Homo sapiens: one gene and its partners. The protein of the gene in region 1 interacts with the protein of each later gene in a pairwise test. Each region holds a gene or a part of one and is shown on either strand. Other genes may lie near its edges.

Region 1 (3,500 bases):
TGACGTGTGCAAATTCTGCCTCTGTTCCTGCTTTCAAATCCACTCGGCTCCTTAAGTAAGCCTCCTGCAGGCCGTTTTCCTGATTGCCTGGTGAACGGCCTGCACTTTGGGAAAATGCATCTGAGAAATTGCATTGGCCCTCCTGGGTCACCGCCTCTTTCTTCCCACCAGAGCTGGCCTGGAGGTGGAGGCCCCCTCAATGTTTGGACCTAAAGGAAGTGATGAGAATGAATCAGATGTGGGTGTCTTGGACCCCTTCCCTTTTCCTGTGCCCAGCCCCACTTAGCCTTGGCTTCCTGCCCCATTCCACTCTCTAGCTTCCCTGCAGAGGGAAAGGAGCTGGGCATAGGTCTCGAGGCCCCAGTTCCTCTGGGGTCAGAACATGGGAGCTGGTCAGCCTTGAGCATTTCATCCCCTCTCCATATGTCTATTTATGGAAATGGGCTTTTAAAAGGCCACTGGTTGGCTTAGTGATTTCCACTAGGTCTTCCCACCACCTCAGGGCTGGGAGGAAGGGGTCCTGCTTAGCACTGTGGCTGGGAGTGTGGGCTGGGGATGGAGGAAGAGCCGTGGGGCAGAGTGAGGAGCTACCAGGGCAGGGGAGTGTGTGTGTTGGGAGCAGGGTGGAAGGTGGGGGCCTGGATGTGGGTGGCACTGAGCCATCCTTGGGAGATTGTGGAGGGTCCAGGGTGTTAGGGGCAGTTTCAGAGATGCAGCATGGGCCACTGGCTTGAGGGAGAGCCCAGCAGGAGAGGCCCAGCCTCCTCCTCTTCCTGGCAGGATTTCTGGGTCTCTGTGGTCCATAACCTCATCCCATCTCTACACCTCACCTTCCTCCCCACTCCCATCCATCCTTCTCTCCTTCAGTTCCCATGTCTTCCTTCTGTGTGCCCCGTCTTCCCCTCCCCCTTCTCCTGTCCCATCAATTTCTCCCGCTTTTCCTCCTCCCCCTCCTTTTTTCACCCTCTCTCACCCAACTAAGCGTCATTCTGTCTTAGTGATCCATCTTCCCTTCCATCTCTGTCTTTCCTCCTCCTCAGAGGAGGAGGCTGTGATCACAGAAATATCTGTGAGGGGGAGGAGGGGGCCGAGCCAGGGAGAGGCTGGCAGAGTGACACTGCCGAGCATGGCAGGCTTGGCTGCTGCTCAGAGCCAGGCAGCCTGGTGCAGCCAGGGCTGGAGCAGGAGCTTGGGGGTCTGGCTGGTTAGGGTTCAAGCCCTGCCTCTTTTGCCTCATAGCTGGACGATCTTGGGCAAGGCATTTTACCTCCTTATGCTCCAGGGGTCATGACATCTATCACACAAGTCTGTTTGAAGAGTCAATTAGATAATATACATAAAATACCAGGCACATAGTAAGTGCTCAACAAATTTCAGCTAGGCAGTGACTCACAACTGTAATCCCAACACTTTGGGAGGCCAAGGCAGGAGGATTCTTTGAAGCTAGGAGTTCGAGACCAGCCTGGGCAACATAGCGAGCTCCTGTCTCTAAAAATATATATAAAAAATTAGCCAGGCCTGGTGGCACATACCTTTAGTTACAGCTATTCGAAGAGGCTGAGGTGAGAGGATTGCTTGAGCCCAGGCAACAGAGCAAGACCCCATCTTTAAAACAACAACAATAGTTGTTCGTGCCTCTCTTTTCCTGTTGTTGGTAAAATATGTTTCTGGGGAGCTCACCACCTTGACCCTTTCTAGGGAAAAACATCACTGCTGTCACCAGCACCATCACCATCATTATCAAACAGCTGAGCCAGAGACTAATAATAATGACAACAATAGCTAACACTTCTATGGGACTTCCTATGTGCTGGCACTGTTCTAACTTTCAGTGTATTATTTTATTTTATCCTTATTATAATCCTATGAGGTAGATGCTATTTTAGTGCCATTTTACAGAACAGAAAGTGGAAGCATAGATGAAGTAACTTGCTTAAGGTCACTCCACTAGTTTGTAACAGAGCCAGGATTTGAAACCAGGCAGTCTGGCTCCAGAGTCTGTCTTGTAACTCTCACACTATGATCAGATGATGGTAACAAAATTTAATTGTGGGCTGGGCGTGGTGGCTCACGCCTGTAATCCCAGCACTTTGGGAGGCCGAGGTGGGTGGATCACCTGAGATCGGGAGTTTGAGACTAACATGGAGAAACCCCATCTCTACTAAGGTACAAAATTAGATGGGCATGGTGGTGCACACCTGTAGTCCCAGCTACTTGGGAGGCTGAGGCAGGAGAATCGCTTGAACCCGGGAGGCAGAGGTTGTGGTGAGCCGAGATCGCGCCATTGCACTCCAGCCTGGGCAACAAGAGCGAGACTTCGTCTCAAAAAATAAATAAATAAATAAATAAAATTAATTGCACAAAGGAATACATAAATACACTTTAAAAATTCAACAATAGGGATGAAGGAAAAGACCTCCAAATTCCAGCTAATCACCTTTCACTCCCAGGGACATGCATCAATTTAGGATATGTCCTTCTAGGTCTTTTTTTTTTTTTTTTTTTCTGTTAGGACAGAGTGTCACTCTGTCACCCAGGCTGGAGTGCAGTGGTACAACCACGGCTCACTGCAGCCTTGACCTCTTCTGACTCAGGTGATCCTCCCACGTCAACCTCCGGAGTAGCTGGGGCTACAGACGCACATCACCATGCCTGGCTAATTTTTGTATTTTTTGTAGAGATGGGGTTTCACCATGCTGCCCAGGCTGGTCTTGAACTCCTGGACTCAAGCAATCCACCTGCCTCGGCCTCCCAAAGTGCTGGGATTACAGGTGTGAGCCACTGCACCTAGCCCTTCCGGGTCATTTTCTATGTGCTTATGTATTTATACAGGTACTTAAAGAAACTTGGTGCTTTGTGTTGGATATTGTTTTTTAAACAAATAGGATCATGCTGTATCTATTACTTTGCAACCTGCTATTATAATTTAATAATCATGGAGATCTTTTCATTTGATTGATTCATTCTTTTAAAACATCTGTGTAGTATTCTGTAGTGGGAATTCACCGTGGTTTATTTAAGCCACTCTTCTCTTTTTTTTTTTTTTTTTTGAGACAAACTCTCACTCTGTCACCCAGGCTGGAGTGTGGTGGTGTGATCTCGGCTCACTGCAGCCTCCACCTCCTGGGTTCAAGTGATTCTCCTGCCTCAGCCTCCTGAGTAGTGGGACTACAGGCATGCACCACCACACCTGGCTAATTTTTTTATTTTTAGCAGAGACAGGGTTTTGCCATGTTGGCCAGGCTGGTCTCGAACTACTGACCTCAAGTGATCTGCCCACCTTGGCCTCCCAAAGGGCTGAGATTATAGGCGTGAGCCACTGTGCCCAGCCTAAACCACTCTTCTTTTGATGGACATTAAGGCTGTTTCCAATTTTTTCCTATCACAAGTAGTGCTGTGGGACACATTCTTGGATATGTGAAGCGTGCAGACATGAATGTAGGTGTTGGCTGGAAGCTGTATGTGTGATTGTTGGCTGGAAGGGCCCTGGATTGTCCTTC
Region 2 (3,297 bases), on another chromosome or scaffold:
CAGTGTGGACGGCCATTTGTAATGGTTTTATTCTTCTATCGCTCTGCTTTCTTGTTGAGACAGAGACCCAAGGACCCCATTGCCATCATCTAAATCAATCCCAGGATTTAGAGACAGGCTCTCTGGCTGTGTGATTCTGAGCATTTCACAGGAATTCTCTCTCTCTCTCTCTCTCTCTTTTTTTAGATGGAGTTTTGCTCTTGTTGTCCAGGCTGGAGTGCAATGGCGCGATCTCGACTCACTGCAACCTCCACCTCCTGGGTTCAAGCGAGTCTCCTGCCTCAGCCTCCCTAGTAGCTGGGATTACAGGTGCTTGCCACGACACCCAGTTAATTTTTGTATTTTTAGTAGAGACAGGGTTTCAGCATGTTGGCCCAGCTGGTCTTGAATTCCTGACCATAGGTGATCCGCCCACCTCAGCCTCCCAAAGTGCTGGGATTACAGGCGTGAGCCACTACGCCCAGCCCCAAATTTTCTAAAGCACAGTTTGGACTCATTTGTCAACTGGGAATAATGATCATGTTTATTTCATGAGTTTGCTGTGAGGATTATTATTGGCAGTAATAGTAGTAACATAAAGGGCTGTCTTCATAAAGACATGCTCTACAGCCACACACACACACACACACACACACACACACACACACACACTCACACACATGAAAAGTTACTGAATTCCTTTGGAGAAAAATTAAAAATCTCATGGATATTATAATCTGTGTAGCTGTTCTATTTTCACTTTCCCGATTGGCTACCAGGAAGCTTAGGAGCAAGTAAGTTTGTTTGCTGCCTCCTTTTTTGGTACGTGGGGGTAATTTTTGCCTCATTCTCCACTTAATCTGCTGCTCAGAGAGTTCTCTGGCCAAATCTTATAGGTCTTTGTTCACCACCCAAAATTCTGTATGGGATGAGATAAGGTAGAAGCCAATGGAACTATCATCTTTGCTAGAAACAGAGTAGGAGGCAGCATTCGTTGAAAGAACAATGAGGTCAGATGCGGCGGCTCATGTCTACAGTCCCAGCTACTCACACAGGAGGATTGCAGGAGTTTGAAACCAGCCTGTGCAACATAGCAAGACCCCATCTCTAAAAAAGAAAAGAAAAGAAAAGAAAAAATTAGCTAGGCATGGTTGCATGTGCCTGTGGTCCCAGCTACTCAGGAGTCTGAGGCAGGAGGATCCCCTGAGCCCAGGAGGTTGAGGCTGCAGTGAGCTATGATTGCCCCACCGCACTCCAGCCAGGGTACACAGAGAAACCCTGTCAAAAAAAGAAGAAAGAAGAGGCTGAGGCAGAAGAATCGCTTGAACCCGGGAGGCAGGGGTTGCGGTGAGCCGAGATTGCACCATTGCCCTCCATTCTGGGCAACAACAGCGAAACTCCGTCTCAAAATTAAAAAAAAGAAGAAGAGAAGAAAAGAAATAGAAAAGAAAAGAAAAGAAGAAGGGCCGGGCGCGGTGGCTCACGCCTGTAATCCTAGCACATTGGGAGGCCGAGGCGGGCGGATCACGAGGTCAGGAGATCGAGATCATCCTGGCTAACACGGTGAAATGCCGTCTCTACTAAAAATACAAAAAAATTAGCCGGGTGTGGTGGCGGGCGCCTGTAGTCCCAGCTGCTCGGGAGGCTGAGGCAGGAGAATGGCGTGAACCCGGGAGGAGGAGCTTGCAGTGAGCCGAAATCGTGCCACTGCACTCCAGCCTGGGCGACAAAGTGAGACTTCATCTCAAAAAAACAAAAACAAAAACAAAAAAACAAACAAACAAAAAAAAAACAAGAGAAAAAGAAAGAAAAGGAAAGACAGAAAGAAAACAAAAAGGAAAAAAGAAAAGAAAAAAGAAAGAGGTGAAGTTGAAATCATTGGCTTTCCTTGCTGAACTCCAACCTCTCTCGCAGGCTCTGGAGATTGTATTCCCTGGCTCCGCGCCTCTCCTTTGTTTTGATGGCAGTAAGTCGCTTGGGGGGTCAGGTCTGTGTTTGGATATTCTGGGGCCCCAGCACTCAACAGAAGACCTCAGGGAATATGGAATGGAAGGAAGAAAAAAAAGAGAGGGAGGGAGGGATGCAGAAATGGGTATGAAAATCGATGTGAGTCATGGGTGAGCAAGCGAGTGGATAAATTCATGGACAAGCAAGGGAGTTCTCGCGGACTCCTCACAGCCAGCGTGTGGCAGGAATTATTATTATCCCAACATTCTCCAGAGGAGGAAACCCAGGCTCAGAGTGGTGAGTGAGGAATGAACGGGTGAGAGTGTGAGGGAGTCCATGGGGTCAGGCCAGTCTCTCAGAGGCTTTCAGGACGAACAGCACTCACACCGCCCTGCGAGCGCCCATTCCTGGAAACGAGGTTTCCTCTTGGGTCCCAGCCCTTGCCCACCCCCATCAAGGAGCATGGGCCCAGGCCACCGGAGCTGCTGAATATTTATTTGGCCCCAGGAGCAGTGCAGGGATGGGCTGTGTTGGAAGAGAGAGGAGAGCAGACGAGGATGGCTGATTGTCAAAGCAGGGGGCAGGACCCGGGGGCAGGAGAAACCAGGCTGCCTTCCCTTCCCGGGGTCCCTGGGGCATCTGGGTGTGTCCGCGAGGGTCGGGGGAGTGTGCTGGAAAGTTGTCGTGATTGGCATCGTTGGGGGTGAGAAGACAGGAATGGTTCAGATGGTTGGGGTGGAAGGTGGGGGGAGGGTAACCGTCAGAGGAAGCTTAAGGGTGGGGCTGGCTTGGCTTTGGCCGGTCTCGGGAGTCTGGGGTCAGGGGCTAGAGTCCAGGCTTGGCCGGGGGCTTGGGGTGGGAGTCAGGGCGCAGGCAGCAGCCTCACTCGGTCCGGGGGCCGCAGCGAGTGCCACTGGGCAATGGGCCGCCGCGGGTTGGCCAGCATGTCCGCCCAGTGCCGCAGGCCAGCCCCGCCGGCGGCCGCCCCCACGGCCACCCTCCCGATGGCCTCGTTCTTGCCCAGCTTGTCGTAGTCCAGCACGGTCAGCTCCACCTGCACCTTCTGGGGTGGGCGCGGGAGGAAGAGGAGAGAGGAGCGTGAGGGGAGGAGGCCCCGGAAGGGGCGGTGTCCGTTTTCACGGCTGAGGGTACCTCTCGCTGCCACCCGAGGGCTCGGGGCCCCGGAGCTCGGGACGGGGGAGGGGGTGGGAGACGAGAGGGACGGAGCCTGCGGCGAGGAGGAGGCTCTGGCGCCTTTCTTCCTGCGCAGCCAGGTTTCTAAGGAAATGAACCCTCAGGACTCGGTTGCGGAGCGGGTGTGTTCGGCGCCTCCTGGGGGAGCAGCCTCCTAAGAGCCGCAAAGCTGCAGAA
Region 3 (3,500 bases), on another chromosome or scaffold:
TATAATAACATAATAATTTAATAGATATTGTGATAATGTAATAGAGCACCTAGATAGTTACTCTAGACTGCCTGATCAGGAAGCGCCACTCTGAGTAGGTGACGTTTGAACTGAGTACTTAATGTTAAGACAGAGCCAGCTGGCCGGGCCTGGTGGCTCATGCCTGTAATCCCAGTGTTTTGGGAGGCTGAGGCGGGCGGATCAAGAGCTCAGGAGTTCGAGATCAGCCTGGTCAACATGGTGAAATCCCGTCTCTGCTAAATATACAAAAGTTAGCTGGGTGTGGTGGCAGGCGCCTGTAATCCCAGCTACTCAGAAGGCTGAGACAGGAGAATCATTTGAACTCAGGAGGTGGAGGATGCAGTGAGCTGAGATCGCACCACTGCACTCTAGCCTGGGTGACAGGGCGAGACTCCAGCTCAAAAAAAAAAAAAAAGAAAGAAAGAAAGCCAGCCAATCAGAAGGACAGGACAGAAAGGAAAAGAACAGCTAACACAAACGGCTAAGTAAGACAGAATGAGTGTGGCCTACTGAGGAACAGAATGAAGGCTGGTGTGGGTGGGGCAGCATAAACTATAGGGGAGTAAATAGTAGAAGACCTGGTGGCCACCAGCCATGGTAAGTAATCTGAATTTCATTCTATGTGCCAGGGAAAAAGCTATTGGAAGATTTAAGCAGGAAAGTGGCCTGACTTCTTTTCAAAAGGCCTCTAGCTGGTGAGTGAGGGACAAGGTGGAAACTCTGAGCCCTGTTAGAAGCTTATGGCAGTAAGGATGAAAATGTATACTCCAATGGAGGCAGAGCGAAGAAAAATGCAAAGAAAGAATCAGGATATGTTTTCGAGGTAGTGACAACAGGACTTGATGGATGAGATATAGGGGTGAAAAAAATAAATAAATCAGAATACTGCTAGGCCTTTGTGAAATTGGGTAGTTGGTGGTTTAATTTATGGAGACAGGAAAGTTTGGAGAAAAAGCAGGTTTGGAGAATAATTCAGTAGCTGGGTCTTGTTTACATTTGACATCCCTATTAAATAACTAAGTAAAGATTTAAAGAAGGCAGCCACATATGTTAAGCTTTGAGCTCCAGGATCAGGTTTGAGTTACTGGCAGAAATGGTTCTCAAAGCCCAAATGGAAAAGCTGCTTATTTGTAGCTCCAAGTAACCAGTGTTCTTTAAAAGAGTAAACTTTGGAAAACTAATAGACACAATTTCATAATGATATATAAACAAAAGACTTTCTAAATTATGAGTCTCTTTAAGCCGATAACAGATTATTCCTTTAGAGATGAGATTCTTACCACTGATAATGAGAATGCGAAATATAAGCACACAGGCTCTGGTTTCAGACTGCCTGCATATGAATCACAGCTCCCCTATTTACCAATTAAATAGATAGTATTGGGTGAATTAAATTAAATAGTATTAAGTAAATCACTTAATTTCTCAGTGTCTCAACTTCCTCATCAGTAAAATAAAGATAACAACAGTAACTACCGCTGGTGTACTTGGGAAGATTAAATTAACTAGAACATGTAAAGCAATCAAAACAGCATCTGGCAGGTAGTTAAGTGCTCAACAAATGCAAGCTGGTATTATTACTATTATTATTATTATCATTATTATTTTGAGATGGAGTTTTGTTCTTATTGCCCAGGCTGGAGTGCAGTGGCACGACCTCGGCTCACTGCAACCCCCGCCTCCTGGGTTCAAGCAATTCTCCTGCCTCAGTCTCCTGAGTAGCTGGGATTACAGGTGCGTGCCACCACGCCCAGCTAATTTTTTGTAGTTTTAGTAGAGACAGGGTTTCATCACATTGGCCAGGCTGTTCTCAAACTCCTGACCTCAGGTGATCCACCTGCCTCAGCCTCCCAAAGTGTAGGGACTACAGGCGTGAGCCACTGCGCCTGGCCGCAAGCTGGTATTATTACCTGCAGTCTCCTGGCACTGTACATAGCAGTGTCTTAACACTTCAGTTTTCTAGTTAGGTGCTTGGGAAGAGATGTCATCAAAGATTCAGAATGAGTTGGGGAGGCATATGAAAGACCCTCCTTAAAAGACATGGAGGCTCAATGTTACAGACTGCTAAGAACATGCTCTTTAAAAATAACCTATCTGTATGCCAGTTATTCCTAAATCTGTATCTCAGCCTGGATCTGGCCCTGGGGCTCCAGACTCACATACTTAGCTGCCTACTGGGTACTCGACTTGGTAATTTAATAGGTATGTCATTGAAATAAAAAGGGAAAGCAATTAGTATTCTCTTCATCTTCAGTGAGTAAATGATCAAGTAACATTTTCTTTTTTCTTTTTTTTGAGACAGAGTCTCAGTCTGTAGCACAGGCTGGAGTGCAGTGGTGCGATCTTGGCTCGTCGCAAGCTCCACCTCCTGGGTTCAAGCAATACTCCTGCCTCAGCCTCCTGAGTAGCTGGGACTACAAGTGCCTGCTACCACACCTGGCTAATTTTTGTCTTTTTAGTAGAGACAGGTTTTCTCCATGTTGGCCAGGCTGGTCTCAAACTCCTGGACTCAGGTGATCTGCCCACCTTGGCCTCCCAAAGTGCTGGGATTACAGGCCCTCAAGTGACATTTTCAACTGCAGAATCCCTTGGCTCTCTTCCTTAAGTCACGAAATCCATGCTGTGATTGACATTCTCTCAGTTTTCAGCTTCACACTGAGAAAGTACCCAGACCGGTCAACTACATTAAAATCTCAGGCATTGTGTTTGCTCATTTCAGCATTAATATTTTCACATCATTATTCTACTGAATGTATTACTTACTATAAGTCACTTCAAACAGTTGCTGAAGGTTTACAGGGAATAAGGAAATAAATCAAATATTAGATGCCATTAGATGATTCCTGGGGTCTTATGCCTAAGGCATCCTGGGCTGCACACTCAGCACTGTAACTCCCAGCTGTCTTATGTTGGGCCATGACTCCAATTGCCACCAATGGAGTGACTAGACATCCCTTAAGGACCAGGAGAGTCCCTGCAAAATTCTAATTGCATAGCCTTCCACTCACAAAAGTGTCTAGATTGGATGAGAAATTATATGTCTGCCTACATACTCTGTAGCAGGTAACACGCATACACACATATATTTATTCTGCCAACATCCACCAAACACCAATTAAGTGCCAGGTCCCATGTTGAGCTCCAGTGCAATGTAGAACTCTAGCACAAAAATGACAGGTTTTAAAGAGCCATGAAAACTTTGTTACATACCACATCTAAGAAGACATGATAACAGCCAAAAAATAGTACAGTTCCTTAGACAGACAACAAACAGATAGGCACATTAGATAGATGTTATAAACCATGTACAACCAACAAGTATTTGTAAGTGACTGAAATCTTCCACTGCCTTGCTACCATGGATGTCAAGTGGGAACAGATTATAGCAAAAATGTTTATTTTTATAGGCAGGTAGCATAATCCACAACAGGAATAAAAGCACCAATACAACTATCTTTCCTTTCTCTGATTTAACATAT
Region 4 (3,500 bases), on another chromosome or scaffold:
TCTTTTTTTCCCTACCATCAGCCAATCACTGGCAATGGTAGTAGTTCCTTTTGGTGCCAGCACAATAGTAAACACAAACTCAAATGTAAATACTGAAGTCCCTTCATGGTTCTCTATTATAAGGAGGTGGTTGTTATACCAAATGTGTTCATATGTATACTCCAGATTACCCCTGAAATTAAACACAACATTGAATGTCTTTTAGAAAACAATTTCTTTTGCATCCAAGGACAACTAGGTACCTGGGTATTCAAGTTTAAGAATTACTGATTTTAGATGTTGAATCACACTTTGAATCCTAATGTAATATATAAGTGGGAAAATTTTTAGCCATTTTGACCTGTTTTTTTTTTTGTTCCTCTTAGCTTATCAAGATTAGGCAAGCACTTGCCGTCTTTCTTAAAGAATGGTGCACAGGAGTAGCAATTTTTTATGGGAAGAAAATCTGCTTAATACAAAGGGTTGTGTCAGTGGAAATTTCAAATTAGGTACAGGGAGAAATGATGATCTTATTATTACATTTAAATCCTGCTGAAATTTTGGGTAAAAAAAAATTCAAACATGAATAAAATGTTTCTCGTGCTGACTGAGCGAATTTACTGTGAATTTGGAATCATGGCATCACTTATTGAAGTTTTATTCCCCTTTTCTCACCACTTCCACTGCTAAAAGGGCCCCAAAATAATTGAGTATGTAACTGTTTATTCTTCTGAATTTATCAAAACTAGCAGAAAAAAGCCTAAGTGATATACTTTCTGGCGATCTGAGTTAGTTTGTTAAGACCTGAAGGATCCTGAGAACTTAGTAACTGGCGTTGTGCTAAGAGTCACATCTGTCCCTTTTGAATAGCATGTGTTATACATATCAAAACCCATATTTGATAATATACGTACTACTACTCTGTCACTTGTATCTATGCTAACTTGGGCAGATTTCGTTCTCTTATTTGTGAAATGTGTGGAATAACAGCTACTTGCTGCGGTACTCTGAAAATTAGAGGCAAAAATGTGCATATAACATTTCTGTTTTACTCTGTGACATATTGTAAGTGGGAAACAAATATTGGTATCATTTTCCTGATCCCAAAGCAATGTGTTAGAAATAACTGAAAAGAGCGTGAAAAACAGACAATCCTGAAGTTATTTTTGAAGAAAAAGAAACACATTTAATTTATTGCATGCTTGATGTTTAATTGTAAAATTTCATGTCTACTTAAGTATTAGTGTTGAGGGCCACTGCCATGTGGAAAATGGAGATACAGAGAAGCCATCCAAGCCAAAGACCTTTCCCAAATAAGAACACTGTGTCCAAGTCCACAGTTGGCATTCCAGAATTCTTTACCATAAAGCACTGATGGAGTGATTTTGACATAGAAAATATCGACATTAGGAGTTACCAACATTCTGCCTTATGATATTAACTAAACAAACTTAAGGATACCCAGTTTTTAAAATTTAGTATAGTATCTTCAAAGGTGAATAGGCTGTGTTGAAGATATAATTTGCTGACCACATATTTCTACGTAGAGCCAGTTCTGCGTGTTTTCTTTTTATGTATGATTTTATAGCTTTGCTTTCCTTTTCATGAAGAAGATATCGAAGCAAGTCAAGTAAAAAGAAAATGGCTTTACTTCTATCTTAATAAATAGCATTATAATTAGTAACAAAAATTTTCTTAAAAGTTGATTTTCTAGCACCAAAAAAAATTTAGATTTTTTTGCCACTTCAGCTCAAGTTGTTGATCCTGAAGGCCGTCTTTATAATTCTCTTTATATCTTTATTCTTCTATCATTTGAATTATCATATCCTGGTAATATTGTAATTTAATTATTTAAATAAATAGTAATCATTATCATTTACTGTGATATAACCAGTCACAGTAAAGCTCTGCTAATTTGCTATATGATGCTTTCCTACATATGAAAAATCTTGTATGATTCTAAATTAGCGTCTCACTGATTTCTATGTGTTTGCATTTATTTGATAAATGCATTTTCTACATAATAAATACAGTAACATTAATTGAAATTGCCTTGGAATGGTGATAACAGAATTACCTTTGGATTGACAGAATCATGCAGACATTTGTTACACAGCAGTGGAAACAGAGCAAAGAAAAATCCAATTGCCTGCACAATAAAAAGTTGTCAGAGAAGAAAGTGAAGTCTCCCCTGCATTTATTTTCTACTTTGCGCAGGTTGGTAACAGGCAACTTCGTCATTGTCTTACTGAATGCTGAGTGTGTGATGTAGTTCATGCTTACAGCATTCTTTCTATAGTGTTGGCATCTGTTTATTTTCTTTATAACCTCTAAGAAAAGACTGAGTTAGATGCATTCCATCAAAAACATATTCATTTCTATGTTTAGAGTTTTTATTAATATTTATTTAACATTGGTTACATTTGCTAAAATTACATTCTTTGCTTTCTAATCACCTAGAGTTTTTCCTACCAAAATTAGTTTCATTATAGGGCTTTGGGATAGATAGGAGGGAAAAAAAATCTTAGAACCTTTTTTTTGCTTTTCAGGAAAAATGGGATTCAAGTCCTGTGATCATTCTGCACATACCTTTGATTTCAGTTTTGACTGGGTAGGCTATATTAAAATGAGGTGGTAGAATATTTATTAGCACAGTCGAGTTTGAGCATGACAAGCTTTCTTCATGGTCTGATGTACCTGTGATTTGCCCTGTAGTAATTGTTGTTCAATTTTGAAGGTCGCCAAGTTATCCTCCCCCTGGTTGTGGCAAAAGCAAATCCAAACTGAAATCTGAGCAGGACGGAATCTCCAAAACGCATAAGCTGCTGCGGAGGACTTGTTCCAGCACAGTCAAGACTGATGATGTGTGTGTCACAAAGTCACACAGGACCTTTGGCCGCTCCTTGTCCAGCGATCCCAGGGCGGAGCAGGCTATGACAGCAATTAAATCGCACAAACTTTTGAACCGTCCTTGCCCTGCAGCTGTTAAGTCAGAGGAATGCCTAACTCTAAAGTCGCATAGACTATTGACTCGATCTTGTTCTGGAGATCCACGATGTGAGCACAACACAAACTTGAAGCCCCATAAACTGTTAAGCAGGTCTTACTCTAGTAATCTCAGAATGGAAGAATTATATGGACTGAAAAATCACAAATTGCTCAGCAAGTCCTACTCCAGTGCCCCCAAGTCATCCAAAACTGAGCTTTTCAAGGAACCTAACGCAGAGGGCAGGAGGCTCTCTCTTACCTCAGGGCTTATTGGTATCCTAACACCATCTTCATCTTCATCTTCTCAGCTTGCTGTGCGTAAATATTTTCATCTTGAGTTCTTAAATGTTAGCTAAGGTGCAGTAGAATTTTTTTTTTCTTATAAGATCTGGTGGAGAAAAGAAGCAAAACTTTGTTTTAATTTACTGTTTTTTTAAAATCTTTTTGGATATTGTTTTGCATCCCATACATTTGCAACTGGCAATGAAATGTAAGCTTTGGTTCTGAAAAAAAATAAATGTAGCTATTCATTT

Evidence for each region. Proteins that work in one complex are often made in the same cells at the same time.
Region 2: the proteins of HTR6 (region 1) and SYT5 interact in a two-hybrid assay, tested with the Homo sapiens proteins (one large-scale study listed by BioGRID and IntAct).
Region 3: the proteins of HTR6 (region 1) and CMSS1 interact in a two-hybrid assay, tested with the Homo sapiens proteins (one large-scale study listed by BioGRID and IntAct).
Region 4: the proteins of HTR6 (region 1) and PARP8 interact in a two-hybrid assay, tested with the Homo sapiens proteins (one large-scale study listed by BioGRID and IntAct).

The regions. Positions count from the first base shown.
Region 1 is NC_000001.11:19,671,375-19,674,874, forward strand, and holds part of HTR6 (5-hydroxytryptamine receptor 6), read left to right. Parts: intron 1-3,500. UniProt on the Homo sapiens protein: G-protein coupled receptor for 5-hydroxytryptamine (serotonin), a biogenic hormone that functions as a neurotransmitter, a hormone and a mitogen. Also has a high affinity for tricyclic psychotropic drugs.
Region 2 is NC_000019.10:55,170,696-55,173,992, forward strand, and holds the end of SYT5 (synaptotagmin-5), read right to left. Parts: intron 2,990-3,297; coding exon 2,789-2,989; 3' UTR 501-2,788; downstream 1-500. UniProt on the Homo sapiens protein: May be involved in Ca(2+)-dependent exocytosis of secretory vesicles through Ca(2+) and phospholipid binding to the C2 domain or may serve as Ca(2+) sensors in the process of vesicular trafficking and exocytosis.
Region 3 is NC_000003.12:99,820,862-99,824,361, reverse strand, and holds part of CMSS1 (protein CMSS1), read right to left. Parts: intron 619-3,500; exon of another isoform or gene 497-618; intron 1-496.
Region 4 is NC_000005.10:50,792,137-50,795,636, forward strand, and holds part of PARP8 (protein mono-ADP-ribosyltransferase PARP8), read left to right. Parts: intron 1-2,070; coding exon 2,071-2,196; intron 2,197-2,716; coding exon 2,717-3,281; intron 3,282-3,500. UniProt on the Homo sapiens protein: Mono-ADP-ribosyltransferase that mediates mono-ADP-ribosylation of target proteins.